Linked DNA regions of Homo sapiens. The protein of the gene in region 6 purifies or fractionates together with the protein of the main gene of each other region. This does not show direct contact. Each region holds a gene or a part of one and is shown on either strand. Other genes may lie near its edges. The genes, in order: PLD1, POTEI, SPRTN, DHX16, SART3, POLH and UBE2B.

What was found.
Region 1: the proteins of POLH (region 6) and PLD1 purify together in Homo sapiens (affinity purification with mass spectrometry; one large-scale study listed by BioGRID and IntAct). This does not show direct contact.
Region 2: the proteins of POLH (region 6) and POTEI purify together in Homo sapiens (affinity purification with mass spectrometry; 2 studies listed by BioGRID and IntAct, with this or other methods). This does not show direct contact.
Region 3: the proteins of POLH (region 6) and SPRTN purify together in Homo sapiens (affinity purification with western blotting; one study listed by BioGRID). This does not show direct contact.
Region 4: the proteins of POLH (region 6) and DHX16 purify together in Homo sapiens (affinity purification with mass spectrometry; one large-scale study listed by BioGRID and IntAct). This does not show direct contact.
Region 5: the proteins of POLH (region 6) and SART3 purify together in Homo sapiens (affinity purification with western blotting; one study listed by BioGRID). This does not show direct contact.
Region 7: the proteins of POLH (region 6) and UBE2B purify together in Homo sapiens (affinity purification with western blotting; one study listed by BioGRID). This does not show direct contact.

Annotation. Positions count from the first base shown.
Region 1 is NC_000003.12:171,677,647-171,681,964, reverse strand, and holds part of PLD1 (phospholipase D1), read left to right. Parts: intron 1-4,270; coding exon 4,271-4,318. UniProt on the Homo sapiens protein: Function as phospholipase selective for phosphatidylcholine. Implicated as a critical step in numerous cellular pathways, including signal transduction, membrane trafficking, and the regulation of mitosis.
Region 2 is NC_000002.12:130,461,150-130,464,654, reverse strand, and holds part of POTEI (POTE ankyrin domain family member I), read left to right. Parts: intron 1-510; coding exon 511-1,839; 3' UTR 1,840-3,505.
Region 3 is NC_000001.11:231,341,028-231,345,345, forward strand, and holds part of SPRTN (DNA-dependent metalloprotease SPRTN), read left to right. Parts: intron 1-4,318. UniProt on the Homo sapiens protein: DNA-dependent metalloendopeptidase that mediates the proteolytic cleavage of covalent DNA-protein cross-links (DPCs) during DNA synthesis, thereby playing a key role in maintaining genomic integrity.
Region 4 is NC_000006.12:30,666,126-30,670,443, reverse strand, and holds part of DHX16 (pre-mRNA-splicing factor ATP-dependent RNA helicase DHX16), read left to right. Parts: coding exon 1-34; intron 35-3,116; exon of another isoform or gene 3,117-3,259; intron 3,260-3,630; exon of another isoform or gene 3,631-4,318. UniProt on the Homo sapiens protein: Required for pre-mRNA splicing as a component of the spliceosome. Contributes to pre-mRNA splicing after spliceosome formation and prior to the first transesterification reaction.
Region 5 is NC_000012.12:108,537,107-108,541,424, reverse strand, and holds part of SART3 (spliceosome associated factor 3, U4/U6 recycling protein), read left to right. Parts: intron 1-2,335; coding exon 2,336-2,491; intron 2,492-3,221; coding exon 3,222-3,360; intron 3,361-3,829; coding exon 3,830-3,937; intron 3,938-4,318. UniProt on the Homo sapiens protein: U6 snRNP-binding protein that functions as a recycling factor of the splicing machinery. Promotes the initial reassembly of U4 and U6 snRNPs following their ejection from the spliceosome during its maturation.
Region 6 is NC_000006.12:43,603,476-43,607,793, reverse strand, and holds part of POLH (DNA polymerase eta), read right to left. Parts: intron 3,903-4,318; coding exon 3,783-3,902; intron 3,180-3,782; coding exon 3,056-3,179; intron 2,541-3,055; coding exon 2,475-2,540; intron 1-2,474. UniProt on the Homo sapiens protein: DNA polymerase specifically involved in the DNA repair by translesion synthesis (TLS). Due to low processivity on both damaged and normal DNA, cooperates with the heterotetrameric (REV3L, REV7, POLD2 and POLD3) POLZ complex for complete bypass of DNA lesions.
Region 7 is NC_000005.10:134,381,163-134,385,480, forward strand, and holds part of UBE2B (ubiquitin-conjugating enzyme E2 B), read left to right. Parts: intron 1-4,318. UniProt on the Homo sapiens protein: E2 ubiquitin-conjugating enzyme that accepts ubiquitin from the ubiquitin-activating enzyme E1 and transfers it to a E3 ubiquitin-protein ligase. In vitro catalyzes 'Lys-11'-, as well as 'Lys-48'- and 'Lys-63'-linked polyubiquitination.

The DNA.
Region 1 (4,318 bases), on a different chromosome or scaffold from region 6:
CTATGTGCTGATCTTTTCCTTTTAAGCAATATTAAATAGGTAAGTGAGGGAAAAATTATTTTTGCAATTTAGTTGAGACAGGCTTTTCAAATTTGAATGTCTCGTCACAAGGGATAATATTAAGCTGTTTCTAAACTGTTCTTAGGAATGCAATGGATAGGATGTGTAAGATTCATCTAGTGCTGTTAAATAGCTTGTTATCTAATAGGTGAGCATGAGTTTTAAATATTTTACAAACCTAATATTTTAGTAATTCATTGAGGGAAGATACTCCTACTGCAAGAGTCATCATTGATCCACAGACGAAATACAGGTCTACAAACCCTTAACCACGATTCTAAATTCCAAAAAATTTTGAAAACCAAAATATTTTTTAAAATATAACTTGTTCAGTGCCTGTATTGGAACTGGCCTTGAACATATGTAGAAATTCGGTAGGTAGAGACTAAAAAGGTAGAAAAACAGGCATTTTAGGTAGATACTACATCTTAAGACCCAGATATAGGAAATGCAAAAGTATTTATTTCGGCATCTCAGACTGAGTGTAGAATGTGGTAAATACATATAGGTCTATAATCTCTCATACAAAATCCTTGGAATCAGATTTCAGAAATCAGAAAGTTCTGGATTTTAGAAAGGTAATACAATACCTATACCCTCTACTATATTACACTCCCAGCAGGATCCAGGAAATACCTGGAATGTAGGCAAACCATTTATGTTTGTGCAACACCAAGTGGGATCAATAAAGATAATAAATAACCTCTTGTCAGTTCAGGTCAGATTTTGCTGACCTGTGAGTTATGAAATGAGCTGTGAAAATCAGCTATGAAAAAACATTTGAATTGTTAGAACTTTTGGAGTTTTGGAATTGTGGTTAAGGGCTGATTTGTGCAGATTGAGCTGGTGGGATATATCTGTAGCAGTTTACGGAGGACTTTGAAAATCAGACTGAGACATTGCACCTCTTCCATTAAATGTTGGAAAATCCCTAGGGGCAGGGAGCAATTAAGGGTGAGGCTTTATAGCGTTTATAGTAGAGACACAGGGAGTCTGACAAGGTTGTGTCAGTGAGTTCAAGAACGAAGTAAATGGGAGAAACTTTTTCCAAAAGCAGAATCAGCAGATTTTCATCATGATCTGGGAAGCCGTGGGGAGGTGGGTGGAGAAGTCAGCGAAGAATAAAGGAGCCAAAGGTGATTCCGAGGTTTGAGCTTGAGTTACTACACACAGACAGCAGAAATCTCAAGGAAAGACTTGATTTTATGGAATGATGATGATTTTAGTGTTAGACATAATTTTAAAGTTCTGGAGGGAACTAGGTAAACAATGTCAAGTGAGGCACTGGAAGTGACCTTAGATTTGGAGTCCAAAACAGAAGCCATCCTTGCAGGTGCACATTTTAGAAATTGTATAGAAAAAGACAGGAGAGGCCGGGTGTGGTGGCTCACGCCTGTAATCCCAGCACTTTGGGAGGCCGAGGCAGGCAGATCACGAGGTCAGGAGTTCGAGATGAGCCTGGCCAACATGGTGAAACCCTGTCTCTACTATCAAATACAAAAATTAGCAGGGCATGGTGGTGTGCGCCTGTAATCCCAGCTACTCGGGAGGCTGAGGCAGGAGAATTGCTTGAACACTTGGCCCTGGGAGGCAGAGGTTGCAGTGAGCCGAGATCGTGCCACTGCACTCCAGTCTCAAAAAAAAAAAAAAAAAAAAAAAAAAGAGGAAGAAAAAGAAAACAAAAAGACAGGAGAAAGGGGGAAACCTTGTTAGTGAGGAGGAGCTAGGAAAGAAGAACAAGGATAGGCTGGAGAAATGGTAGAAAAATGGAGACCTGGAAGCCGAGAGATGAGAATAGAAGGAGGAGGATGTGGCACGACCAGAGGACACCAGGCAAGGAACAAGAAGTCCCCCTTCTCATAAACTTTAGTAGCCAGAATCTGAGCCACTGACAGAGGAGGATGCAGAAAATTGGCCTGACAAATCTGTGCCAAAAGACAAGGCAGGTGCAATTATGAAATCATTTGGGAGCCAGATAGCAGCCTAACGAGACCCCCTTGGATCAGCATTGTTGATGCCATAAGTCCTCTCGACCACACTCATGTAATTCTGAGCTACTGTTTTCACAGGAACTAGTATTTGGCTCTATTGCCTTAATAGTTCATTTGTACTGAGGAGGAACCCTAATTTATGTGGAATAGTTTTTAGGCCATGGCTAAAAACAAAAACAAATTTGAATTATGAGCAGGTTGAATTCAATTAGTACCAAGATAATTTCCTGAGACTAAGAATTTCCTTTATTTTCCTTATCATAACTGGTTGTTAGGTGAAAGATAATTTTTAAATGAGTGTATATGTGTTTATGTAAAGCCTTAGCTTAGAGTTTTGCAGTTGATGAAAGCAAATTGTATATGTGTATTTTATATTTGAAATTTGAAATATTGTTTATCTCATTTTTCATCCCTTTTGTTTCTTTTCTCACCCTCTTTTCTTCTTTTAACAAAGTGCTATGTAAACAATAAAGAGCCTATAGATGAGCAAACAGACCTACCCGTACTTTGGCCTTTCAGTCTCATAAAGCAGGAAAATAAATCACTGGGAGAAGTCAATAGAAGTCTATTTTTAACATGATTTCATTTTGCTAATCTATGGCATTTTAAATCATTTTTCTTCTGTAGAAAACTTTAATAGCCTTTGAAAGGTTAATGATTCAGTTTGAGATAGAATATTAGCATTGTGTGTGGTGATTACATAAAAACATTTGTTCTGCAAATATTTATTGATTGCCTGGGTGCTTGGAGCTACTGGCAGTGAGAAGATTTGGTTCCCACTCCCAAAGAGTTTATAGACTGGTGAGGCATTGATGCGGGCAGGGGAGCATCCTGATACAATTGCGTCACAGAGTCAGAGGTGTTGGGGCAGTTGTTAGTGGGATGACAGCAGTGCTAGTGACTGCCTCTTCCTTATGGGGAGATGGCAGGTGATAGCTAATGTGGCTCTTGAAGGATGATTAGGATATCAGGCCAAGAGGGAGAAAGGAGCATTTCAGGTAGAAGTAATAATGTGCCAACTGCATGGAGACATGGCAGTCCACACCTGTTATAATACAGTGAAACACGTGATTTGCATGGGGCCTGGGGTTGGGTGGGGAAAAACAAGGACTAGAAAGATAGATTGGCACCAGTTTGGGAAGAGTCTTCTATGCACACTAAGCCCTTAGGACTTGAGCTTCCTATAGGCAGTATGTGAACCTTCCAGGGTTTTAAGCAAAGAGTGCATTTTACAAAGACAGTTCTGGGACAGTGTGTTGGTGGCAGGACCAGTGTAGTCCTCTCACTGGCTACTGCAAGCAGTACCATTTATTCATTCAACACATATTTTTGCATTCAGTGTCTATTTGTTAAATGCCTCTTTTGTGCCAAGTGCTGCGTTTGTGATTTGTAATTCTGCATCTTTTTACTTCATTGTCTTTGTATTTAGCCGTAAGTCAATGGTCTCGGCACAGTTATTTGTGAAATGCTATAGTAGATTGCTGCTTTTGCACCTATATCATAAGCTTTCATCTGTTGTTACCATATTTTTTATAAATGCCATCTATGATTTGAAGTATATAAATGTTAAAGCGCAACAGATTTTAGCTGTTATCTAGGCCAAATTCTTCATTTTACGCATAATGGATTTATGATCTAAAAAACTGAAGCTCAGTGTCACTTAGCTAATTAATTCCAGGGCTGGAACATGGGCTATCTGTAAATTTGAGGTTCTTGCTTTAATGCAAAAGAATTATGCATCAGGTGTGCACCATGTTGGTTGAGGAAAAAGAAGTGGCATGGTGTCTTTATTGCCCCTGCGTCTCAGGTTTCTCCACCTCTCCCCTCCCCGCCCTTCCCACTCTGCCCCTGAAAGCCCCCCACCAGCTTTACTGCTCTCATAGTGCCACCTTGTGAGTTCTTTATTCACAGTTAATTCTGTGATAGTTCTTCCAGTGATCTGGTAGGTGGTGGAAATAAGTTACTCAACTGCCTGAGAAGGTCAAATTTCATTGTTTAATGATGAATCTTGTTGTAGCCCTAACTGCCCACTAAAAGTAAACTTGTAAGGACTGTAAAACCTTGTTAGCCCACAGCCTGTAATAGAATGGACAGATGCCACCCTAGTTGTGTCTTAAGAAATTAAGAAGCTTTTAGGTGTTTAATAAATGAGAGTTGAGCCTCCCTTTCTGGGACTCACCTGAACCACAGTCTCTGAGGGGGTCTTGCTGCATTCACAGATACCGGGTCCATCCGTAGTTTACAGACAGGTGTGGGAGAGCTGCATG
Region 2 (3,505 bases), on a different chromosome or scaffold from region 6:
GGTAAAATGTTCTTCAGTAAAAGAACTTTAAGAACTTTGAGAAATTGCTTCTGTCCAAATATATGCATAGCTAAGGCTCTTAGGATGGTGTGGTTGATAGGTTAGATATCAGAGTGTAAACCTAATCTTAAAAATGTAGTCAAATTGTTAATCTTATATTTTATGCCTCTGGGTTTTTTGTAACTCAGAAAAAGGCTTTTTTAATTCTGGGATTCTTAAAAATCCTCTAGTGATTTATTTTTCATCGTCTTTAAATAAATATTTAAACTTTTAGGAATTTAGGAGCAGATTCCTAAAAGTTTAAATATTTATTTAAAGGCGATGAAAAATAAATCACTGGAGGAATTTACACTCTTATTAGGTTTGAAGTTTTGTCCAATTTTTTTCCAGTTAAATATCCACTATGGGGATTCTTTCATTATACAAATACATGTTATTTTTGAATTTCAGAAGAAATAATGATATGTCAATCTATTGAGTGCTAACTAAAAGTTCTCTTTGTTTACTTAGCTTTCTCTTAGTTGTAAGAAAGAAAAAGACTTCTTGCATGAAAATAGTACGTTGCGGGAAGAAATTGCCATGCTAAGACTGGAGCTAGACACAATGAAACATCAGAGCCAGCTAAGAAAAAAGAAATATTTGGAGGATATTGAAAGTGTGAAAAAAAAGAATGATAATCTTTTAAAGGCTCTACAATTGAATGAGCTCACCATGGATGATGATACCGCCGTGCTCGTCATTGACAACGGCTCTGGCATGTGCAAGGCCGGCTTTGCGGGCGACGATGCCCCCCGGGCTGTCTTCCCTTCCATCGTGGGGCGCCCCAGGCAGCAGGGCATGATGGGGGGCATGCATCAGAAAGAGTCCTATGTGGGCAAGGAGGCCCAGAGCAAGAGAGGCATCCTGACCCTGAAGTACCCCATGGAACACGGCATCATCACCAACTGGGATGACATGGAGAAGATCTGGCACCACACCTTCTACAACGAGCTGCGTGTGGCCCCTGAGGAGCACCCCATCCTGCTGACCGAGGCCCCCCTGAACCCCAAGGCCAACCGCGAGAAGATGACCCAGATCATGTTTGAGACCTTCAACACCCCAGCCATGTACGTGGCCATCCAGGCCATGCTGTCCCTGTACACCTCTGGCCGTACTACTGGCATCGTGATGGACTCTGGTGACGGGGTCACCCACACTGTGCCCATCTATGATGGGAATGCCCTCCCCCATGCCACCCTGCGCCTAGACCTGGCTGGGCGGGAACTGACTGACTACCTCATGAAGATCCTCACCGAGCGTGGCTATAGGTTCACCACCATGGCCGAGCGGGAAATCGTGCGTGACATCAAAGAGAAGCTGTGCTATGTTGCCCTGGACTTCGAGCAGGAGATGGCCATGGCGGCCTCCAGCTCCTCCCTAGAGAAGAGCTACGAGCTGCCCGATGGCCAGGTCATCACCATCGGCAACGAGTGGTTCCGCTGCCCCGAGGCGCTCTTCCAGCCTTGCTTCCTGGGCATGGAATCCTGTGGCATCCATGAAACTACCTTCAACTCCATCATGAAGTCTGATGTGGACATCCGCAAAGACCTGTACACCAACACAGTGCTGTCTGGCGGCACCACCATGTACCCTGGCATGGCCCACAGAATGCAGAAGGAGATCGCTGCCCTGGCGCCTAGCATGTTGAAGATCAGGATCATTGCTCCTCCCAAGCGCAAGTACTCCGTGTGGGTCGGTGGCTCCATCCTGGCCTCGCTGTCCACCTTCCAGCAGATGTGGATCAGCAAGCAGGAGTATGATGAGTCAGGCCCCTCCATTGTCCACCGCAAATGCTTCTAGGTGGACTCTGACTTAGTTGCGTTACACCCTTTCTTGACAAAACCAAACTTCTCAGAAAACAACATGAGATTGGCATGGCTTTATTTGTTTTCTTGTTTCATTTTTTGTTTTGTTTTTTATTGGCTTGACTCAGGATTTAAAAACCGGAATGGTGAAGGTGACAGCAGTCGGTTGGAGGAAGCTTCCTCCAAAGTTCTACAATGTGGCCAAGGACTTTGATTGTACATTGTTCTTCTTTTCAATAGTCATTCCAAATATTGTGAGACGCATTGTTTCAGGAAGCCCCTTGCCCTGCTAAAAGCCACCCCACTTCTCTCTAAGGAGAATGGCCCAGTCCTCTCCCTAGTTCACACAGGGGAGGTGATAGCATTGCTTTTGTGCAGATTACATAATGCAAAATTTTTTGAATCTTCGCCTTAATACTTTTTAATTTTGTTTTATTTTGAATGATCAGCCTTCGTGGCCCCCCTCTTTTGTACCCCAACTTGGGGTGTATGAAGGCTTTTGGTCTCCCTGAGAGTGGCTGGAGGCAGCCAGGGCTTACCTGTACTCTGACTTGAGGAGAGTTGGATAAAAGTGCACACCTTAAAAAAAATTGAGGAAGCACAGTATTTCAGTACAGTGGACAGCTTAGCATGTTGACAACTGAGAATAAAATGCTCAGTTCTGAACTGGACAATGTAAGACACAACGAGGAAACACCGGAAATGGAAATTCAATTACGTCATTGTAGACTGGCTGCTGCTCTACATGATTGTGACCAAAGTCAGATAGCTGAAAGAGACTTCTTTCCAGAGAACAAGACATGAACAGGTTTATTTACAGAAGACAATGAATTCTCATTTATCTCACCTAAAAGAGAACAGATTCTTTCTCAACAAGTCTAACGTAGACAGTAAAATCAACAGGCTAAAAATTAAGCTCCATGAAACAAGATAAAACTCTGAGAGAAAAGACGGGGCAGGCCGCCATCTTTCCCGTTCAGGCAACTTAGTCATTCCAGCCTGCGGGCTTTGGAGAGTACAAACCGACGAGGGACAGAAGAGATCCCACAGCACAGCATAGCTGCTTTACCAAATCATGGCCAGACTGCTTCTGTAAGCAGGCCCCTGATCCTGTTCCATCTCACTGGACAGGACCTCCCAACTGGGGCCTCCAGCTACCCCCACCAGCATTCCTTGGCCAATGGAAATGTGAAATGTTCCTGGGACAGAGCTCCCGGAGAGGGGCAGGCCCCCACCTTTGCTCTTTCGGTGACTAGCCATTCTGGCCTGCGGGCTTTGGAGAGCCCAAGCTGACAAGGGGTGGAAGAGGTACCTCAGCACAGCACAGCCACGCTACCAAAACGTGGCCAGACTCTTGTTTACGTCAGTCCCTGACCACATTTCTAGTCAGTGGGTGAAGTCTTTCAACCAGGGTCTCTGGCTACCTTGACTGCTGTTCTCTGGCCGACAGAGGTCTCAGGCCTCCCTGAGTCAGAGCTCCCAGGGGGAGGACCAGATTGTCATCTTTGCTGTTGGGGCGACCCAGGCATTTCAGCCTTAGGGCTTCAGAGTGTCTGAGGCGGACCAGGGGCTGAAGTGAACCCCCAGCACAGCACAGCTGCTCTATAAAAACGTGGCCAGACTTTTCTTTTTGAAGCAAGTCCCTGTTCTTGTTCGTCCTG
Region 3 (4,318 bases), on a different chromosome or scaffold from region 6:
GTAGCTACTAAATGTAAAGTGGTACAGTAGAAATACTTGATTAATGAAAAAGAACAGAGCTCAGATGATAAAGAGAAAGGTAGGTGTAAACAAAATATCAGTTAAATGTAAGTGGACTAAACACTCCATTAAATACATGGAATGGCATGCTAGATTAAAAGAGACATGCTTACAGTAAAGACACACTTATTTTAAGTTTAAAAGGATGAGGAAAAGTAATCATCCAAACACTTAAAAGCAGAAAACTATTGTGGCTATAAGGTTGAGTACTCATTATCCAAAGTGGGACCAGAAGTGTTTCAGATTTTTTTTTTTTTTACTTTGGAATATTTGCATTATACTTACTGGTTGAGCTTCCCTAATCCAAAAGTCCCAAATCTGAAATGGCTTTAGTGAGCATTTCCTTAGAACTTAACCTTTAATCATCTTGTAAGTGCTCAAAAAGTTTTAGATTTTGGAGCATTTCAGATTTTGGATTGTCAAATTAGGGATGTTCAACCAGTATTAGTATCAGACTAAAGACTTCAAGGGAAGAAGTTTTACTAGAGGAAAAGTGGGATATTTTATAATAATAAAATAATCTATTAAGCAACAATACATAATCTCTCCAAAAGTAATAACATAACTTTAAATTTTATGAGGCATAAATTAGCAGAAGCAAAAAGAATATACAATCAGGCTGGGTGCGGTGGCTCACGCCCATAATCCCAGCACTTTGGGAAGCTGAGACAGGCGGATCACTTGAGGCCAGGAGTTTGAGACCAGCCTGACCAACATGGTGAAACCCCGTCTCTACTAAAAATACAAAAATTAGCTGCGTGTGGTGACACAGCCTGTAGTACCAGCTACTCAGGAGGCTGACGCACAAGAATCGCATGAACTCGGGAGGTGGAGGTTACAGTGAGCCGAGATCACACCACAGCACTACAGCCTGGGGTGACAGAGCAAGACCCTGTCTCACTACAGCCTCAACCTCCCAGGCCCAAGCAATCCTCCCGCCTCAGCCTCCCAAAGTGCTGGGATTACAGGTGTCAGCCAAGACACCCAGACTCATACTTGAAGAATGTTAACACAACCTTCTTAGTAACCCAATGAATAAGCGGAAAAAAATAATACACATTTTAAAAAGTTGAACAGCATGATTAACCAAATCAGCCTTAGAAGGAGCCCTAACTGGAAGAGTTGCTTAATGAATATGTATTGGGTAAATGATTACATAAACACATGAGAAAAAAATGTTTTTAAGTAGTGGGTGAGAAGAGAATGGGGAATGTATAATAGTATCAAGTGAGCATTTCCTGTTGGCAGAAAGTTACAAAATGACATTTTCGTCAATGACAGGCCCCATATATAACAGTGGTCCCATAAGATTATAAGACCATATTTTTATTTATTTATTTATTTTTATTTTTTGTTTTTTGAGATGGAGTTTTGCTCTTGTTGCCCAGGCTGGAGTGCAATGATATGATCTCGGCTCACTGCAGCCTCCGCCTCCCTGGTTCAAGGGATCCTCCTACCTCAGCCTCCCAAGTAGCTGCGATTAAAGGTGTGCGCCACCACGCCTGGCTGATTTTTGTATTTTTAGTAGAGGCGGGGTTTCACCATGTTGGCTGGTCTCAAACTCCTGACCCCAGGTGATCCTTCTGCCTCAGCCTCCCAAAGTGAATGGGATTACAGGTATGAGCCACCATGCCCGGCCAGGACTATATTTATTTATTTTTTTTTTGAGATGGAGTCTCGCTCTGTTGCCCAGGCTGGAGTACAGTGGCGCATCTCCACTCACTGCAAGCTCCGCCTCCCGGGTTCAGGCCATTCTCCTGCGTCAGCCTCCCACATAGCTGGGACTACAGGCACCCGCCACCATGCCAGGCCAATTTTTTGTATTTTTTTTACTAGAGACGGGGTTTCATCATGTTAGCCAGGATGGTCTCAATCTCCTGACCTCGTGATCCGCCCGACTCAGCCTCCCAAAGTGCTGGGATTACAGGCGTGAGCCACCACACCTGGCCAAGACTATATTTTTATTGTACCTTTTTTCTTCTTTATATTTAGTTGCACAAATACTTACCATTATGTTGCACTTGCCTACAGCATTCAGTACAGTAACATCCTGTGCAGGTTCGTTGCCTAGGAGCGGCAGGCTATACTCTATAGCCTAGGTATATATACTCTATAGCCTAGGTATATACACTCTATAGCCTAGGTATATATACTCTATAGCCTAGGTATATATACCCTATAGCCTAGGTATATATACTCTATAGCCTAGGTATATATACTCTATAGCCTAGGTGTGTGTATATATATATATATATTACATAGGCTATACCATTTAGGTTTGTGTAAGTACACTCTTAAGATGTTTGCACAATGACAAAATTGCCTAACAATGGATTTTTCAGAACATATCCCTGCCAAGTGAGGCACAACTGTAGTTACCTAAATCATAGAGAAGGGGGTTCAGAAAAGGAACAGACTTTATCTGGTTGAGGAGGTCAAGAAAAGCTTTATAACTGTACATTTTGTTACTACCATCACCACTCCTGCTGCTCACTATTGAGCACCTATTGTGTGTCAGACTTTGGACTAAACGTCGTCTTTACCACAGCCATGCAAAATGAGGATATCCCATTTTAGGGATGAGGAGCCACTTGGAGCCTGTCCCAGGTCTCATGCTGTGATTGTGGGTTTAGGTTCCAGTTTCCCTGACTCTAAGGCTCTTGTTCTGTCCCCTTTACCATTCAACTCATCACTCCTGCGATTAAAACATGGAGAGGTGAGCATTAAAGGACGAATTGTACTTTTGACAAGCAGAGATAGGACAGGAGGCTACTCTTGGCAGAAAGCATGGGAATAATGTGAACAAAAGTGAGTTCAGACAACTGGGGGCATATTTAGGACTAGAGGTAGTTCATTTTAACCCGATAGAACAGTCATGGAAAACAGAGGTATTTTGGGACTGTGTTGTGTATAGATCCTTGAATTAAGACTAAATATGGAAAATGATAGATATTTAAAAAGTTCAGTACCATTTTCAAGATGTTTTTTAATGTTTAATTAAATTGAACCAAAAATCAGGAACCTAAATTTGTTTCTCCTTTATGAGAATAGATCTTTATCATTGCTCTAATTTAGAACATTGAGAAACTTTTGCAGTACCTTTCTTGAATTTGAGTCTTCTTCGTTGAGCGGCATTTACTTGAAAAATAAAGTTCTGGCTGGGTACAGTGGCTCATGCACGTAATCAGATAGATGGATTGCTTGAGCCCAGGAGTTGACCTGTCTGGGTAAGATGGTGAGACCTTGTCTCTACAAAAAATTGAAAAAAAATTAGCCAGGTGTGGTGACATGCGCCTGTAATCCCAGCTGCTCAGGAGGATGAGATAGAGGGATCCCTTGATGCCAGGAATTTGAGGCTGCAGTGAAATATAATCATGCCACTGCACTCCAGTCTGGGTGAAAAAGTGAGACCCCATCTCTGAGAAATAATAAGATAAATAAATAAAGTTCCTTTTAAGAGATACAGTTGATAATTTTTAGAGGGATATATGAATGACCAAGTTAAAATGTTTGATTCTCTCATTTTTCTGTTCAGCATAATTTTATAAGACTAAAATTCATTAATGACAGTCTAGTTCTTCTGATGGAAATTGTTTTTTAAAAAAATTATGGAGGATCATGAAAAAGGTATGTCTTTGAAGATCTTTCTGATTTTTGCTTAAAAAAATTATTTATATTTTTTAGAGCAAAAACCCCAGCAATCTTAAATGCTTTTGTTAATTTTGCACAGAAACTTGTGCATCTTTGGTGTGGAATGAGCAGTAGGTTTTAGTGTTTGTTTCAAGTTTTCATGATTTCTGAATCAAAACCCAAAAGCTGTAGAAAGCTATACACAAAGATGTCTTGTTCAGTGTCCTCCTCTATCTTGAACTCCTTACTTGCTGTAGGAGCTGTTAGTTTCTTTTCATTTTTCTGTTTTGCAAATATTTCTATTCATTTTTATTCCTCCTCCCCACCATACAAAATTTTTCTTACACAAAATACTATGTACATTCTTCTGTACTTTGTCTTTTTCTTTTTCTTTTCTTTTCTTTTCTTTCTTTCTTTCTTTGTTTCTTTCTTTTTTTTTTGTTGCCCAGGCTGGAGTGCAATGGCATGATCTCGGCTCACTGCAACCTCTGCCTCCCAGGTTCAGGTGATTCTCCTGCCTCTGCCTCAGCCTCCCGAGTAGCTGGGATTACAGGCGCCCGCCACCATGCCTGGCTAATTTTTGTGTGTTTAGTAGAGACGGGGTTTTACCATGTGGGCCAGGCTGGTC
Region 4 (4,318 bases), about 13 Mb from region 6:
CCTCAAGATGGCCGAGGAAGACCGGAAGGCCATGGTGAGTCCCAGGGCCTAGGGAGCCAAGATCAGAAGACAAAAGGAAAGACTTTCTGATAGAGTGTATAGGGAGAGAGGATACAGAGGAAGCACAGTGTGGATGCTGATGGGGTGGTCAGGTTTCTAGAAGAGGGGCTTGGTTGTTAGGAGCCAGCTGAGGATAGACTTATGTTGTTGAGGGAAGGATCCTTCTTAAGTTGTAGGGGGAAGGAGGCTACCCATAAGTCCTCCTTGACTCTTAACTTTAGGATCAAATATACTCTATTAGTGAATGAAATTGTGAGCTTTCCCTATTCCTGAGTCCTAATGAGATATGAGGCAGCTGGAATGTTGTCAAGAAGGTTGCTGGAGGGCAAGGGCAGGGCAGCAGTCCCACTGTACAGGGATGTGCTGACCATTCAGCTTAGGCACACCATCTCCAAATACCTTCCCACCACCTAATTCCTGCACCCCTTATGTGGCTTTGTGATCTCCCTGTGTCTTCTCACTGGACAGGGACAGAGCCCTTGTAATTCATAAACTGGACTTTTTATGGTGTGAAACTAGGTAGGGTAAGCTGTTTTCCAAAGGCCTGGTCTTGTCAAGTAAAGTCACACTTAGATTCCCCAATACCCCAATAGAATTTTGAGACTCTTGAAGTTCCTTTTTTTTTTTTTTTTTTTTTTTAAACCTTTTTTCTTTTTTTTGAAACGGGGTCTTGCCCTGTCACCGAGGCTGGAGTGCAATGATGCGATCTCGGCTCACTGCAACCTCCGCCTCCTGAGTAGCTGGGATTACAGGCGCACACCACCACGCCTGGCTAATTTTTTGTACCTTTAGTAGAGACGGGGTTTCACCATGTTGGCCAGGGTGGTCTCGAACCCCTGACCTTGTGATCCACCTGCTTTGGCCTCCCAGAGAGCTGGAATTACAGGCGTGAGCCACCATGCCCAGCCTTCTTTTTATTTGTTTTGTTTTATTTTTTATTTTTATTTATTTATTTTTGAGATGGAGTCTCACTCTGTTGCCAGGCTGGAGTGTGGTGGTGCGATCTCAGCTCACTACAACCTGTGCCTCCCTGGTGGAGGAATCAAGCGATTCTCCTGCCTCAGCCTCCTGAGTAGCTGGGACTACAGGCCTGCAGTACCACACTCGGCTAATTTTTTGTATTTTTAGTAGAGGAGATTTCATCATGTTGGCCAGGATGGTCTTGATCTCTTGACCTTGTGATCTGCCCGCCTTGGCCTCCCAAAGTGTTGGGATTATAGGCATGAGCCACTACGCCTGGCCGTTTTTACTTTTTAAAATTCATTTATTTATTTTTTTGAAACAGAGTTTTGCACTTGTTGCTCAGGCTGAAGTGCAGTGGCGTGATCTTGGCTCACTGCAACTTCCACCTCCCGAGTTCAAGCGATTCTCCTGCCTCAGCCTCCAGAGTAGCTGGGATTACAGGCATGAGCCACCTCGCCTGGCTAATTTTGTATTTTTAGTAGAGATGGGGTTTCTCCATGTTGGTCAGGCTGGTCTTGAACTCCTGACCTCAGGTGATCCACCTGCCTCGGCCTCCCAAAGTGCTGGGATTATAGGCGTGAGTCACCACGTGCCCGGCCAACTTTTGGAGTTCTAAGAATGGCCTACTGGTTCCCAGGTCTCTCCTGACCAATTTATCTCATATCTCTTCCTGAAATTGACTGTGGTTAGGCTTCTGGGACATCTCAGTGCAGTTGTGGTGGTAGTGGTGTTACTGTTTTGGCCTGAATTTAATTTTTCGGGTTTTTTTTGAGACAGAATCTCATTCTGTCGCCCAGGCTGGAGTGCAGTGGCATGATCTCGGCTCACTGCAACCTCCGCCTCCCGGGTTCAAGTGATTCTCCTGCCTCAACCTCCCGAGCAGCTGGGACTACAGACATGCACTAGCATGCCTGGCTGATTTTTGTATGTTTAGTAGAGATAGGGTTTCACCATGTTGGCCAGTCTGATCTCAAACTCCTGACCTTTGGCGATCCACCCCCCTCGGTCTCCCAAAATGTTAAGATTACAGGCGTGAGCCACTGTGCCCAGCTGTAATTTTTCTTTTTCGATTACAAAAATATTTAAGCACATAGGGAAGTTGAAAGAATAGAACAAAGAACACTCATAGACACTATTCAGATTGAAAAATGGTTAATACTATGGGTAGTATTTGCATTGTAATTGTAAATGTGGTATGTTTTTTCTTTTCAGACCATTTAAAAGAGTCTTAGACATCATGGCGTTTTATCTCTAAGTACATCAGTGTGTACCTGCTAAGGATAAAGATATTGTCCTCTAAAATCAGAATGCTCTTGTCACAGTCAGGAAGTTGAACAGTAATTCTTATGTATCGACTAAGATCTCTCTACAATAAAAGATACCCTCATTACCCTCAAAATAACTTTAATGACTGCTTTTTCCTAACAAGAATGCAGTCAAGGTTCATGCATTGCATTTGGGTCTTAGATGTTAAGTTTGTTTCTCTCTCTGTCTGTCTCACCTTGCAGTGTCCTACATTCTGGATTTGCCTGATTCTTATCTTGTGGTGTTAAGTACTTCTCTGCCCTGTGCTTTCTTTGAAGCAGGAATTGGGTCTAAAGCTTATTGACACTCAGATTAAACAGTTGTGGCAGGAACACTTCTTGGGCGGTGATGTGCACTTCATATTATGTCATATCACGGGGACATACTATCCAGTTGTGTATCTATATATTAGTATTAATATCCTTTCTACCAATAGCCTTTCATCAAATGCTTTTAGAAGCCACTGGTAATCCTTTCCTGAACATGTTATTTTTATTGGGGATTGCAAAATGGTGATTTTTTTTTTTTTTTTTTGAGACAGAGTCTCGCTCTGTCGCCCAGGCTGGAGTGCAACGGTGCGATCTCGGCTCACTGCAAGCTCTGCCTTCCGGGTTCATGCCATTCTCCTGCCTCAGCCTCCTGAGCAGCTAGAACTACAGGCGCCTGCTGCCACGCCCGGCTAATTTTTTGTATTTTTAGTAGAGATGGGGTCTCACCATGTTAGCCAGGATGGTCTCGATCTCCTGACTTCGTGATCCTCTTGCCTCAGCCTCCCAAAGTGCTGGGATTACAGGCGTGAGCCACCGCGCCCGGCCGAAATGGTGATTTTTTGATTCTGTCATTCCTGTTACGTGTATTGGCTAGAATTTGTCTATAAAGAAGAGCTTTTCCTCAACAACTAGGAACAAGCTACAGTTCCTTCTTAAAAAGGGTAAATGTTTGTTTCCTTTTAAATACGAATTTTTAGAGTAAGGCGTTTGCTGTAACAGTCATTTCACTGGTGACAGATTTTTTTCCCTTGTTTTTTGTTTGTGTGTGTCAAATTGGACTCATGAATTTTTATTTTTCAGTATTTTATAATCTCACATCATTATTCTTTTTAATGCTCAAATGGCTCTGATTTTTTGCCCATATTAAAAAAAAAATCTATCTGGCTCTTCCATGGAAGGAATATTTGACTGTGGTACCCAGATTAGGTCATGATCATAAACTGCATTTTAAGTCTTTACAGAACAAACAAGAAAAGCCAAACAACTAAATAGAACCAGGCCCCTTAAGGGTAGAACAGCAGAGGGGCTTTTTTTTTAAAGATGCAGTTTTGTTCTTGTTGCTCAGGCTGGAGTGCAATGGCGTGAGCTAAGCTCACTGCAACCTCCGTCTCCCGGGTTCAAATGATTCTCCTGCCTCAGCCTCCCGAGTAGCTGGGATTACAGGTGCCCACTACCATGCCCAGCTAATTTTTGTATTTTCAGTAGAGACGGGATTTCACCATGTTGGCCAGGCTGGTCTCTAACTCCTGACCTTAGGTGATCCACCCACCTCAGCCTTTCAAAGTGCTGGGATTACAGGTGTGAGTCACCACGCCCACCCAGCCACCAGAGGGGCTTTGACCTTGCAGTAGAGGAAGTTGTGATCACAGAGAGGATGATGTCATAGTGGGAGGACTCCTGGCAGGAAAGGGCCTTATAGATATTGCCAGTTTTCTGCTGTCATCCATAATGTGTCCTGAAAAGTTTGTATCAAAGGTAAATGTGTAGAAACTAAGTGAGACACAGCATGGTGAAGAGAGGTTAGTACCAGAAAGCCAAACATCCCTGATTACATTTGCCTTACAGAAACACTCTGATGCTGTAGTCCTAACTTTTTATAATCAGTTTTTCTCCCTTCCTCAAACTACAGTCATTCCGTTTAAGACCAAAGAACATCTAACTGGGGCTGAAGATTGCCTCCTGTTGGCCCCCTCACTGGTTTCTATCTTTGTCTGAATTGT
Region 5 (4,318 bases), on a different chromosome or scaffold from region 6:
TTTCACTTCTTTTTTTTTGAGACTGGAGTTTCGCTTTCACCCAGGCTGGAGTGAAGTGGCGTGATCTCGGCTCACTGCAACTTCCGCCCCGCCAGGTTCAAGCGATTCTCCTGCCTCAGCCTCCCAATTAGCTGGGATTATAGGCCCTTGTCACCAAGCCCCGCTAATTTTTGTATTTTTAGTAGAGACGGGGTTTCGCCATGTTGGCCAGGCTGGTCTCATACTCCTGACCTCAGGTGATTCACCTGCCTCAGCCTCCCAAAGGGCTGGGATTACAGGCGTGAGTCACTGCAACTGCCTTTTCACTTTTTTATTTTTTAACAGTGTCTTTTGATGAACAGTTCTTAGTGATCAATTAGATTAAAATTCTTTCCCTTTTGGTTGTGCTTTTGTTGTGCTTATTTAAAAAATATTCCCTACTTAGCTCTAATTTCTTCTAAAAGTTTTATAGTTTTCTGTTTCATATTTAGGCCCTCATCCACCTGGGATTGATTTTTGAGTGGTATGAGACTGCGTCTGGTTTCATTTTTCCATATGGAGAACCAGTTGTTCTAGTACTGAGTTTGATCATTCCTTCTTCCCCTCACTGATGTGCAGTGCCACATCTGTCATAGATTAGCTGTCCATTTATGTGTGGGTCTTTCTTCTGGATTTTCTGTTCTGTCCCACTGGTTTATGTTACACTGTTGTAATGATGAGAGTTATAATGTTTTGCTCTTGGATAGGGTGAGTCCCATCCACCTTTTTCCTCTTCAAGAGGATCTTGGCTTTTTTTTTTTTTTTGCCTTCAATGCTTCCATCGGATTTAGAATCAGCTTTTCTAGTTATATTTTTAAAATCTTTTTTTTTTTAATTGGAATTGCATTGAACCTGGAGATCAATTTGGGGAATAATTTACATCTTCCAATCTATGAACATATATAGGTTTCTGCTACTTATATCTTGTCTTTCTGTAAAGCTTTATAATAATATTATAAATTTGTCCAGTGTCTTCAACACTTGACCTTTAGAGTCCCCTGCAAGGGAGATTTGCTGGTAACAGATTTTCTGTGTTCAAAAAGGTCTTTGCTTCCCTTCTTGAAAATTATTTTCTTAGGCTATAGAATTCTAGACCGACAACAGCAAAAGAATTCTAGACGGACAATGTGTCCTCTCAGCAATTGATTGTATCTTTCTGTCTTCTGATGTCTGTTGTTGCTGTTGAGAAGTCAGCGGTTTGTATAAATCTTGCTTCTTCAGAGGTAGTCACTTTTTTGTCTGACTGCTTTTAAGATCTCATTGATTTGGTTTGCTGTCCTCTAATTTCACTGCAGTAGGTCCATGTGTGGACTGGCTTGAAGTTTTTTGGGCTTCTTGACTCTTTTTTTCTATCTTTCTTTGCCAACAATAGGATTGTGAAGGTCAGATTCTTAATATACGTCAAGCCAGCAAAAGGTTAATGTTTACTTAGCTTGCCACCCTCATTTAGATTTTGTCCTTAGTCCTTAGTATTTCTTGTTTCTTTGCCAGTTTGTTGATGACTTTTAAGAAGATATTATATTTAATTTAGCAGTTTTAGTTGTTTTGAATGGTACAGTGTGTCTGGGTAACTAATTCTTCCTCGTTACTGGAAATGGAGGCCCTGAAACATCCCCTTTCTACATATGGAGTCTGTGTGTTCTCTTACTCTCCTGCACTGCTTCATCCTTTCTTTTTCATGTGTAAATGATTTGCATGTACCTGTGCTTCCCAAAACTTCGATCATTCAATTATGTCATGGCCATCAGCAAAATGTGCCTGAAGAGAAAACATGTCGAATAAGATTTTTTTCTAAAAAGAATTTGATTGTATGTCTTTGGATCATTAAACATTCAGCACAGCTGCCTTCATCTTCTGCATTTATCTACATTCTTCCAGGAACTGATATTTGGAATAAGAAACCTGAAATAGCATCAGGCACCAAAATTTTCCAGTTTGGTTGTATTAACTCTACTCAGTAGCCCAAGAACATGACTTCTGGTTTGGAAGGGTGGTTGACAGTGGTCACTGGCAAAGGTGTTGCTCTTTCACTCAGTTCCTGATTGATGGGCTACTTAATTCCCTGTGGTCTAGGAATGGATTTAGAAAAGAGTTTATGGAGCCTTTGTAGCGACTGCCATGAACTGGCACTTTGGACCAGATGAGAAGACTCTTGTTTTGCTCAAGAAGTTGTAGAGGCCATAGTGGAGTGGTTCTGAGAGTGAGGATTTGGCGATTCATAGTTACTGTAGCCAGTTTTGCCAAAATTTATTTTATTTGCAGATGTGTTGTGCTTCCTGCCAGTAACTAAATTCAATACAATTTTCCTGTACTCCAGTTGCAGGCAGAGGCACCAAGGCTGGCAGAATATCAAGCATATATCGATTTTGAGATGAAAATTGGCGATCCTGCTCGCATTCAGTTGATCTTTGAGCGCGCCCTGGTCGAGAACTGCCTTGTCCCAGACTTATGGATCCGTTACAGTCAGTACCTAGTAAGATCACTGTTCTAATTTCATTTTATTTTTGCCAATTTAGAATCTACTTAAAATCAGTAAGAGTGCCAGGAGTTTGTTGCATACGGCCCTACTCTTGCTTTTCCTCCATCTGCTTTTTCTCCTCTTTGCCAACTCGTTTAGAAAGTTTTAGTGTTTCAAGTTATTTAAAAATGGTCACTAACTGTAAGTAAAATGAGCATATTGTCTGTGTTGAGGACTTATAACAACTTGATATTTTTCTTTTAACTTTTTATTATGGCAAAAATGTAAACATATAAAAGTAGACAGATCAGTAAAATGAAACTTCTGTACCCCTCACCCAGCTTCAACAATTAGTAACATTTATAGCTTTAGTTTACTTTGATCTGTAGTCTCACCTACTTGTCCCTTCTGTGTTACTTTGAAGCAAATCCAGAAATGATATTTCGTTGGTAAATATTTCAGTATGTGTATATAAAATATTTCAGTGTGTCTGTATAAAAGGATCCAAATGAGGTCTATCCAGTAGGGTTGGCTGACGTCTTTTAAGGCTGTTTTAACCTGTAAGTTGCTCCTCTCCTTCTCCTCCACTCCCCTTAGTGATTTTTTTGTTGTTGTTGAGGAAACCAGGTCACAAGAGATGTTTATAAGGACATTTCTTTCATCACTTGGTCGTGCTGGCAATGTCTTGTTGATGGTGAATGCTTAATAAAGTGTAATTTCCTAACTCTGGAATTCTTTATCATAGGATCGACAACTGAAAGTAAAGGATTTGGTTTTATCTGTACATAACCGCGCTATTAGAAACTGCCCCTGGACAGTTGCCTTATGGAGTCGGTACCTCTTGGCCATGGAGAGACATGGAGTTGATCATCAAGTAATTTCTGGTGCGGATGTTTTTGTGGGAGAACTTCTAAGCTATTTGTCCCAAGTGAAAAACAGAGAGCGGTGACAAAGTCATTACATCAGTGTTCCCTGGGGTTTTCTTTGGGTTATGGAGTGTAGTGACAAAAAGGGCTCTGAGTGAGAGATGAACTGGTTATATTTGTGGCTTCTTAGAGCTTTTTAACATGCTAATATTCATTGTATTTTCTAAGAAGTTGTAGTGTTTTCTCCAAACTTCCTTGATCTGGAACTTTTCTTGCAGGGCGTCTTGTGGAAGAAGTTTTTTCTAGAACACAGTCTGTAGAGTGCTGTAGCAACTTCTGTCTTCAACATTCCTGTCTAGCTCATTTCATTCTGTTGCATCTATTAGTCTTTAAAGTCATGTAGTGTTTTATAGTCAGTAGAATGTAGTGACTTTCTATTAGTTTCCATTTGAATTGGTAACAAATCCTGACTTTTCTCCAACTCCAGTAACCTTCGAGAAAGCTTTGAATGCCGGCTTCATCCAGGCCACTGATTATGTGGAGATTTGGCAGGCATACCTTGATTACCTGAGGAGAAGGGTTGATTTCAAACAAGGTATTTAAGCACATGTTTTTCACTTTAGAGCTGAACATGTTCTTAATACAACTTTTGGCGAGATGTCCCAGTTCCCCAGATACATTGTGATTGGGCAAATGATGTAGACTAGGTATTGGTGACTTTTTCCCCCAGAAATCTTAGCAATTTCTGTCTTTAACAAGTCATGATGTGGATTGTAAAGCAAGAGAGTAATCGTTTATACTGGCTCCTGCCAGCCTTTTTAGTCTTAGCTCTCATTTCTCCTTTCAGGTCTTTTTATTTATCCTAAATACTTCTTGAAATAAGTCTGCTGTGTTTTAGAAAAATCTTTGTACCTCTGTGGGATCCTTTGCCCCTTCATGTCCCCCCGAAAACAACCAGAAAACCCCTAACTTGTAC
Region 6 (4,318 bases):
CAGAGAATGTAAGCCAAACCATAATGAGATACCATTTCACACCCACTAGAATGGCTAAAATTTAAAAAGTCAGTAACAAGGATGTGGAAAAATTGGAACCCTCTTACATTGATGGTAAGGATGTGAAATGGTGTAGCCACTGTGGAAAACAGTCTGGCGATTCCTCAAAATGCTAAACATAGAGTTAACATATGACCCAGAAATTATACTCCAAGGTATATGCTGGAAAGAAAACAGGTGTCTACACAAAAACTTGTAGATGAATGTTCATATCAACATTATTCATAATAGCCAAAAGTGGAAATATACTCAAATGTCCATTCACTAATAAGTAGATAAGCAAAATATGGTATATATTAATACAATAGAATATTATTCAGCCATAAAAAGGTGTCAGTCCTGGCCGGGCGCAGTGGCTCACGCCTGTAATCCCAGCACTTTTGGATGCTGAGGCAGGAAGATCACAAGGTCATGAGATTGAGACCACCCTGGCCAACATGGTGAAACCCTATCTCTACTAAAAATACAAAAATTAGCTGGGCGTGGTGGCGCGTGCCTATAATCCCAGCTACTCGGGAGGCTAAGGCAGCAGAATCACTTGAACTGGAGAGGCGGATGTTGCAGTGAGCCGAGACTGCACTACTGCACTCTGGCCTGGTGACAGAGCGAGACTCCGTCTCAAAAAACAAAAACAAAACAAACAAAAAATGACTAAGTACTAATACATGCTACAATACGGCTGAACCTGAAAACATATTAAGTGAAAGACTTCAAGCCAGTCACAAAAGACCACATATTTTCACAAAAGACCACATTTATATGAAATGTCCAGAACAGTTAAGCAGTGTAGTGGTTGCCTAGGGCTGGGGAGTAGCTGGGAGAGAAATGGGGAGTGACTGGTAATGGGCACAGGATTTCTTTTGGGGGGTGATAAAAATGCTCTAAAATTGTAGAATAGTTGTAGAACTCTGCAATATACTAAAACCACTGAATTATTTTAAATGGGTGAATTTTGTGGTATGTAAAGTATATGTCAATAAAGCTATTTAAAAAGGAGAGAGAAACTGCCGGGTGCGGTGGCTCATGCCTGTAATCCCAGCACTTTGGGAGGCCAAGATGGGCAGATCGCCTGAGGTCAGGAGTTCGAGATCAGCCCAGCCAACAAGGTAAAACCCCGTCTCTACTAAAAATAAAAAAATTAGCTGGGTATGGTGGCAGGTACCTGTAATCCCGGTTACTCGGGAGGCTGAGACAGGAGAATCGCTTGAATTTGGGAGGTGGAGGTTGCAGTGAGCCAAGATTGCTCCACTGCACTCCAGCCTGGGCGATAGAGCGAAACTCAGTCTCAAAAAAAAAAAGGAGAGAAACTAATCATCAGATGTCTTTAACATTAGAAAGAAAAATGTACAATGCTCAGAATTTTTTTTTTAAGTCAAATATACAGAGATAGAGAATAAAACAGTGGTTACCTGGGATGGGGGAGGGGAGGAGGAAATGGGGAGATGTAAGTAAAAGGATATAAAGTAGCAGACACGTAGGGTGAACAAGTCTATTGAGCTAATGTACAAGTGAGGACTATAGTTAATAAAATTCTATTAGAGATTTTAAGTAGATTTTAACTACTTTTTTTTTTTTTTACAAAAAAGTATGTGAAATGATAGATACGTTAATTTGCTACACTATAGTAACCATTTTACTATATGTATCCCATAGCATCATGTTGTAAACATCAAATATACACAATAAAATGTGCTTAAAACTGCCACTACTGGCTGGGCGTGGTGGCTTATGTCTGTAATCCCAACACTTTGGGAGGCTGAGGTGGGCGGATCACCTGAGGTGAGGCATTCAAGACCAGCCTGGCCAATATGGTAGAACCCCGTCTCTACTGAAAATACAAAACAAAAAATTAGCCGGGTGTGGTGGTATGTGCCTGTAATCCTAGCTACTTGGGAAGGTGAGGCAGGAGAATCACTTGAACCCAGAGGCGGAGGTTGCAGTGAGCCAAGATCATGCCACTGCACTCCAGCCTGGGCAGCAAGAGGGAAAACTCTATGTCTCAAAAAAAAATTAAAAAATTAAAAAATTTAAAAAGATTTCTTAAAATTTCCTTGGCTGGAGTTCAAGACCAGCCTGAGCAACCTAGCAAGACCCTGTCTCTACAAAAAATAAAAAAATTTAGCCAGTTGTAGTGGCATGCACCTGTAGTCCCAGCTACTCAGGAGGCTGAGTTGGGAGGAGAGCTTGAGCCTAAGAGGTAGAGGTTGCAGTGAGCCATGATTGTGCCAGTGTACTCAGCCTGGGAGACAGAGTGAGACCATGTCTCAAAAAAAAAAAAAAAAAAAAAAAAGAAAGAAAACGGATATTTCCTATGCTAATACTTTTTTCTGTCTTTGTTCCTGCTCCATAAGGTAAAGAGCAGCTGATATGTAAATTGCAAAGCCCACCCCAGGAATAAAGAAAGAAAATCTTACATCATTTCGGTCTTTAGTCAGTCTCTCCTCTAGTTCCTGGGCTAATTGCAACAGCCACCATTGTACCTAAAAAAGTATTGAGACTTTAATCTTTCATTTAAACACTCGAAGTCTATTAAGAACTAGATGGTGTTATTTGTTCTTTTTTTTCTCCCAAACAGAATTGTGCACCAAAGACTCCCCATAATCAAAGGATCACCAGATCATAGAAATGTTCCCAGTCCTTCTGTCCTGCCCTAGCTCAAGCCTTTCATTTTCTTTTCCTGCTTGTTTGCCATCAGGTGACTTTCAAGCATGTTCCAGCTCTGAGAAAAAGACAAGACCCAAACTTGAAGCATAATATCCTAGGCTTTCCAAGTCTCCATCTACTAAACAAATGAGAAATTCCATTTTATTTCGATAGACGAAAGAGAAAAAAGTAATAATCATAAACTAGTCAATTTTCAACCCAAGGACAGAACATCTGTTTTCTTCATACTTTATAAAGGTCTCCTCTAACCTATTAAACCTTCCACAGCTACCAAAACCTACCCACTGACCCCTTTAAAAGAGGTAGTGTTCTGTCAAGAATGCCAGCTTACCTGTTCCCGAGTAGCAAGAGCTGTTTTTCCTGGGAAGTTCTTACTACAGCCAATGGTTTTGGGTAGTTGCCTGGGTTTAACTGGATCATGTTCAATCCCTCGGCACATGGCATATAGCCAAGACCTAATAAGACCAGCAAAAAACGTTAAGGTGAAATTAAATGATTATTCTTGTTAAAACAAAACCAAATAACTATATTATATTGCCCTTTTATCTTTTTCATGAAAAAGGAAAACCTTGTCCAAAATTTAGTGTACCGGACCTCTGACGAAACCCCTGCCCTTCTCAGTGAATTCCAGTGCAATATATGGACAATGAGAACACTGGTTTTGTCTTCTAAAGCCAAGTCATCATTTGTATTTTTGGAAAAATGCCAAGCAAGCCACTGATTCATATCCCAAAATGTGTGTGTGCTTGCTAGGGCATTAAACACAAGGATTTTAAGAGAATATAGCATCTCAGCATGCATGAATGATGTAATTAGTATATACTCAGGCATCAAAGTAACAAATCTTATCTATCAACCACCTAGGTACATGGAAAAAACTACTCTAGACTGATGGGCCATAGTGACCCAAGATATTGAAGCAAGAAGAACCAGTGAAATAATCTCAAGAAACAAATGTTAACCTAAAGATAGGTCTGGATTTTACTAGATGGTTTTGTCTATATTTGAATATAGCATCTCCATAAAGGTTATGATTTTAAAAAAAATGAATCACTTACCCATTCTTCTCCCCAAAATGACTCTGGAGCTGGGATTCAGTGAACTGGGTCAGTTCACCCATGTATTCTATCCCTAGGATCTCAATGACAGAGGCCCCTAGCTTTCCTCCAAGACTACGGCTGATAACAAAGGAGACAAAGAATTGATAGGTCACATCATAACTATCTAATTAGCAGCAAACGTAAGACATTCTACTTTGTAAACAGCTCTCCAAAAGGTTCAGGACAAATGAGAGCATATATTCTGGGAATTCAGTTACTCTGGGAGTTAGAATTTGAGAAGAAGATTAAAAATAACATAACCAAAAGGTTAAAGTCCTTGATTAACTATCAAGTAAACTGTATATAAAACGTTCAATTGTACAACGCCTGCTGTCCTGTTTGGGGATTAAAATCCCAAACACAAAATAAATCCCTTCCATGGCTAAAACTTTACTTAAGAATATATAATCTGGCCAGGCACAATGGCTCACACCTATGATCCCACTTTGGGAGGCCAAGGCGGGAAGATTGCTTGAGTCCAGGAGTTTGAGACC
Region 7 (4,318 bases), on a different chromosome or scaffold from region 6:
TCACCATGTTAGCCAGGATGGTCTCGATCTCCTGACCTTGTGATCTGCCCACCTTGGCCTCCCAAAGTGCTGGGTTTGTTGTGGATTTTTGGTTTGTTTCTTATTTCTTCAGAGACAAAGTTATACTCTGTCACCCCTGCTGGAGTGCAGTGGTACAGTCACAGTTCACTGTTACCTCAAACTCCTGGGTTCAAGTAATCCTCCTGCCTCAGACTCCTAACTAGCTGGGACGACAGGTGTGGACCACCATGCCCAGCTAATTTTTTTGTTTGTTTTCTTTTTCTTTTTTGTAGACACAAAGTCTCTGTGTGTTGCCCAGGCTGGTCCTTGAACTCCTAGCCTCAAGCAGTCCTCCCACTTTGACCTCCCAAAGCACTGTGATTACAGGAATGGGCCATTTTTTCCAGCCTTTAGCTATGTTTCTGTAGCTAGACTCTTACAAAGCTTCCAAATTTGAGGTCAAGTTGTTTTAATAACTCCTGAATTAAAAGTAATACATGGTCGGGCATGGTGGCTCATACCTATAAACTCAGCACTTTGGGAGGCCAAGGTGGGCGGATCACCTGAGGTCAGGAGTTTGAGACCAGCCCGGCCAACATGGTGAAACCCCATCACTACTAAAAATACAAAAATTAGTCAGGCATGATGGTGGGCACCTGTAATCTCAGCTACTCAGGAGGCTGAGACAGGAGAATCACTTGAACCTGGGAGACGGAGGTTGCAGTGAGCTGAGCTCACAACACTGCACTTCAGCCTGGGTGACAAACCAAGACTCTGTCTCCAAAAAAACAAAGGTAATATGTAAGCCAGGCACAGTGGTGCACACCTGTAGTCCCAGCTACTCCAGAGGCTAAGGCAGGAGGGTGGCTTGAGGCCAGCCTAGGTAACATAGTAAGATCCTGTCTCTACTAAAAGAAATAGATAAAAGTATTATCTATTTATTTGTGGAATTGTGAAAAATAAGAAAAATCTGTTGGCTAAAATTAAGCTTTTCAAAAATACAATTTTGGCCAGGCGTGGTGGTTCATACCTATAATCCCAGCACCTTGGGAGGCCAAGGTGGGAAGGTTGCTTGAGACCAGGAGTCAGAGACCAGCCTGGGCAACATAGCGAGGTCCCATCCCTATAAAAAACAAAAAAAATATCAAGGCATGGTGGCGCACACCTGTAGTCTCAGCTACTTATGGAGGCTGAGGTGAGAGGATCACTTGAGCCCAGGAGGTCAAGGCTGCAGTGAGCCATGACTGTGCCACTGCACTCTAGCCTGGGCAACAGAGCAAGATTCTATCTCAAAAGTACAATTTTGCATATACAAAGTTGGAGTCAATGACCACACACAGTGGTTCATGCCTATTAATTCCAGCACTTTGGAAGGCTGAGGAGGGTGGATTGCTTGAGCCCAGGAGTTCAAGACCAGCTTAGGCAACATGGTGAAACCCTGTCTCTACAAAAAATACAAAAATTAGCTGGGCACAGTGGTGCGTACCTGTATTCCCAGCTACTAGGGAGGCCGAGGTGGGAGAATTGCTGGAGCCTGGGAGGTTGAGGCTGTAGCAAGCCATGATTGTGCCACCGCTCTCCATCCTGGGTGACAAAGCAAGACCCTATCTCAAAAAAAAAAAAGAAAATTGGGATGTTATATATAAAATAAGGTGTTTTTTTTGGTTTGTTTGTTTTTGTTTTTTTAATATACTGTGAACATTTTCCTTAATAAATATTCTGGGCTGAGTGCAGTGGCTCACGCCTGTAATCCTAGCACTTTGGGAGGCCAAGGCAGGTGGATCATGAGGTCAAGAGATCAAGACCATCCTGGTCAACGTGGTGAAACCTCATCTCTACCAAAAATACAAAAATTAGCTGGGCATGGTGGCGCATGCCTGTGGTCCCAGCTACTCGGGAGGCTGAGGCGGGAGAATTGCTTGAACCCGGGAGGCGGAGGTTTCAGTGAGCCAAGATCGCGCCACTGCACTCCAGCCTGGCAACAGAGCAAGACTCCATCTCAAAAAAATAAATATTCTGATACATCATTTTTAATGGCAAAATGTTCTGTTACATAGATTTATCATATTTTTAACCAGTGTCCAATTGTTGATAGTTTTCAGTTGTTTACAATTTTAAATAGCACTTTGAACATTCTTAAAAATCTTAAAAATTTTTTTGTTGTTGAGAAAAACACTTGCTGTGTCACACAGGCTGGAGTACAGTCGTGTGATCTCGACTCATCGCAACCATTACCTCCCGGGTTCAAGTGATTCTCTTGCCTCAGCCTCCTGAGTAGCTGGGACTGCAGATGTGTGCCACCATACCCAGCTTTTTTTTTTTTTTTTTTTTTTTTTTTGAGACAGAGTCTTGCTCTATCGGCCAGGCTGGAGTGCAGTGGCATGATCTCGGCTCACGGCAACCTCTGCCTGTTGGGTTCAAGTGATTCTCTTGCCTCAGCCTCCCAAAGCTGTATATCCAGCTAATTTTTATATTTTTAGTAGAGACGGGGTTTCACCATGTTGGCCAGGCTGGTTTTGAACTCCTGACCTCAGGTGATCCGCCTGCCTTGGCCTCCCAAATGTTGGGATTACAGGTGTGAGCCACCGTGCCCGGCCTCAAAATAAATCTTTTCAGATACTAATTATTATTTTGATTGAGTTTTTTGTTTGTTTTTTTAATTGCTGCATAACAACTAGACTAAGTTTTTTAAACGTGGGGATTACTGGGTCAGAGGCTTGTGTGTTTTTAAAGCTTTTAATGTCATTTTCCATTTTTTTCCTTCAGTGGAATTGTTCTCATTTTCACTTCATAGAGTAGTTTGTTACTATTCTTCACTAAACGATGGCTAATTCCTTTGTAATAAATTTGGTCTTCCTTGACATCTTGCTGTTTACATCTATTACATTTATATTTCTGTATTATAAATTACCATGTGAAAGACTTCTCCAAATTCTTGAAGCTCCTCTTCAGTCTCACAGCCTTTGCTCATTTAAATGTGGCGTTCCCCATCAGCCAACTCACTTTCAGGAAGAACATTTTCAGAGGTCCTCTTGGTCGTGTCTCTAGTACTGCAGAATACATTATAGAGCTCCCTACCCAGAGGAGAGATGTGTTTCGTTTGTGTCTGGAATCAAGGTGACTTTCCAGTAATAGATACTACCTTTGGCACTTCATTTCTGTGAAGTTGCTTTTTCCTTCTAGCTGCCTTTTTTGCTTTTTTTTTTGTCCAAGACAGGTTTAATTTTATTTTCTGTTTCTCTTTTTGGGGAAGTTCCCAGGTCATTTACCATTTATTCCACTGTAGCTTTATCTTGCTTAGACTTGTTATTGAGTCAAACCAAACCAATTATGATAAGGGGGTCTTTAAATAAAGGTGGGAAAGACTGTAGAATGAGTAAGGGATATAAATATAGGGTTATCACTTAAGCAAATTTTTAAGAAACCACAGTGTATTTGGTTTTCACATCTCTTCATATTTATAGCATGGTTTCCCTTTTATTCTGCTGAGTACTTTTTTATAATTTAACTTTCTGGTTTATTTTTTTAAAAACATTTATTGAAATATAATTTACACACCAAGCTGTTGACCCACTTAAATTGTACAACTCAAATGGTTTTTAGCATAATCATAACCATCACCATGACCACTTTAAAAACAACAAAAAGCCCCATAACTATTATCTTAGCAGTCAACTCTGTTTGTCTTAACCCTCCCCGCTTCAGTCCTAGGTAAGTGTTACCCCTAACGTGTTTTCCCTCTAGATTTGACTATTCTGGATATTTCATATAAATGGAATCTTATACTATGTGGTCCTTTGTGACTGACTTCTGTCACCCAGCATAAAGTTTTCAAGGCTCATCTATGTTGTGATATAATAGTATCTGTGATTCATTTTTTATTGTTGAATAATATTCCACTGTATGGATATTCTGTATTTTGTTCATTAGTTGATAAGATATTTGAGTTCTGATTTACTTTTGGATTCTCAGAAATAGTTACTCAGAACTTTAAAATTGTTTTACACTTTTATGGGTTTTACAGAGTTACTAATTTTTGCTTTGGGCAGCTAAGTTTGATGTTTCTGTGGGATGGACAGTAAGTTGGCTTTGAAGCTGAGAGATAGATCTAGGCTAAGGCCAATGATTGGGAATACTGAGCACATGGATGGTAACTGAGGCCACAGGAGTCAATAGGATTGCCCAGTGTGTGTGTAAAGGGTAAGAAGGAAAAGGGCTTAGGATAGAGTCTGGAAGAATCACAGTGTTTAAGTGTGATTTGCTCCCCACTCTCTGTTATGGTTTGCTCCATGAAATGGTATCTGTAACATTTAAATGA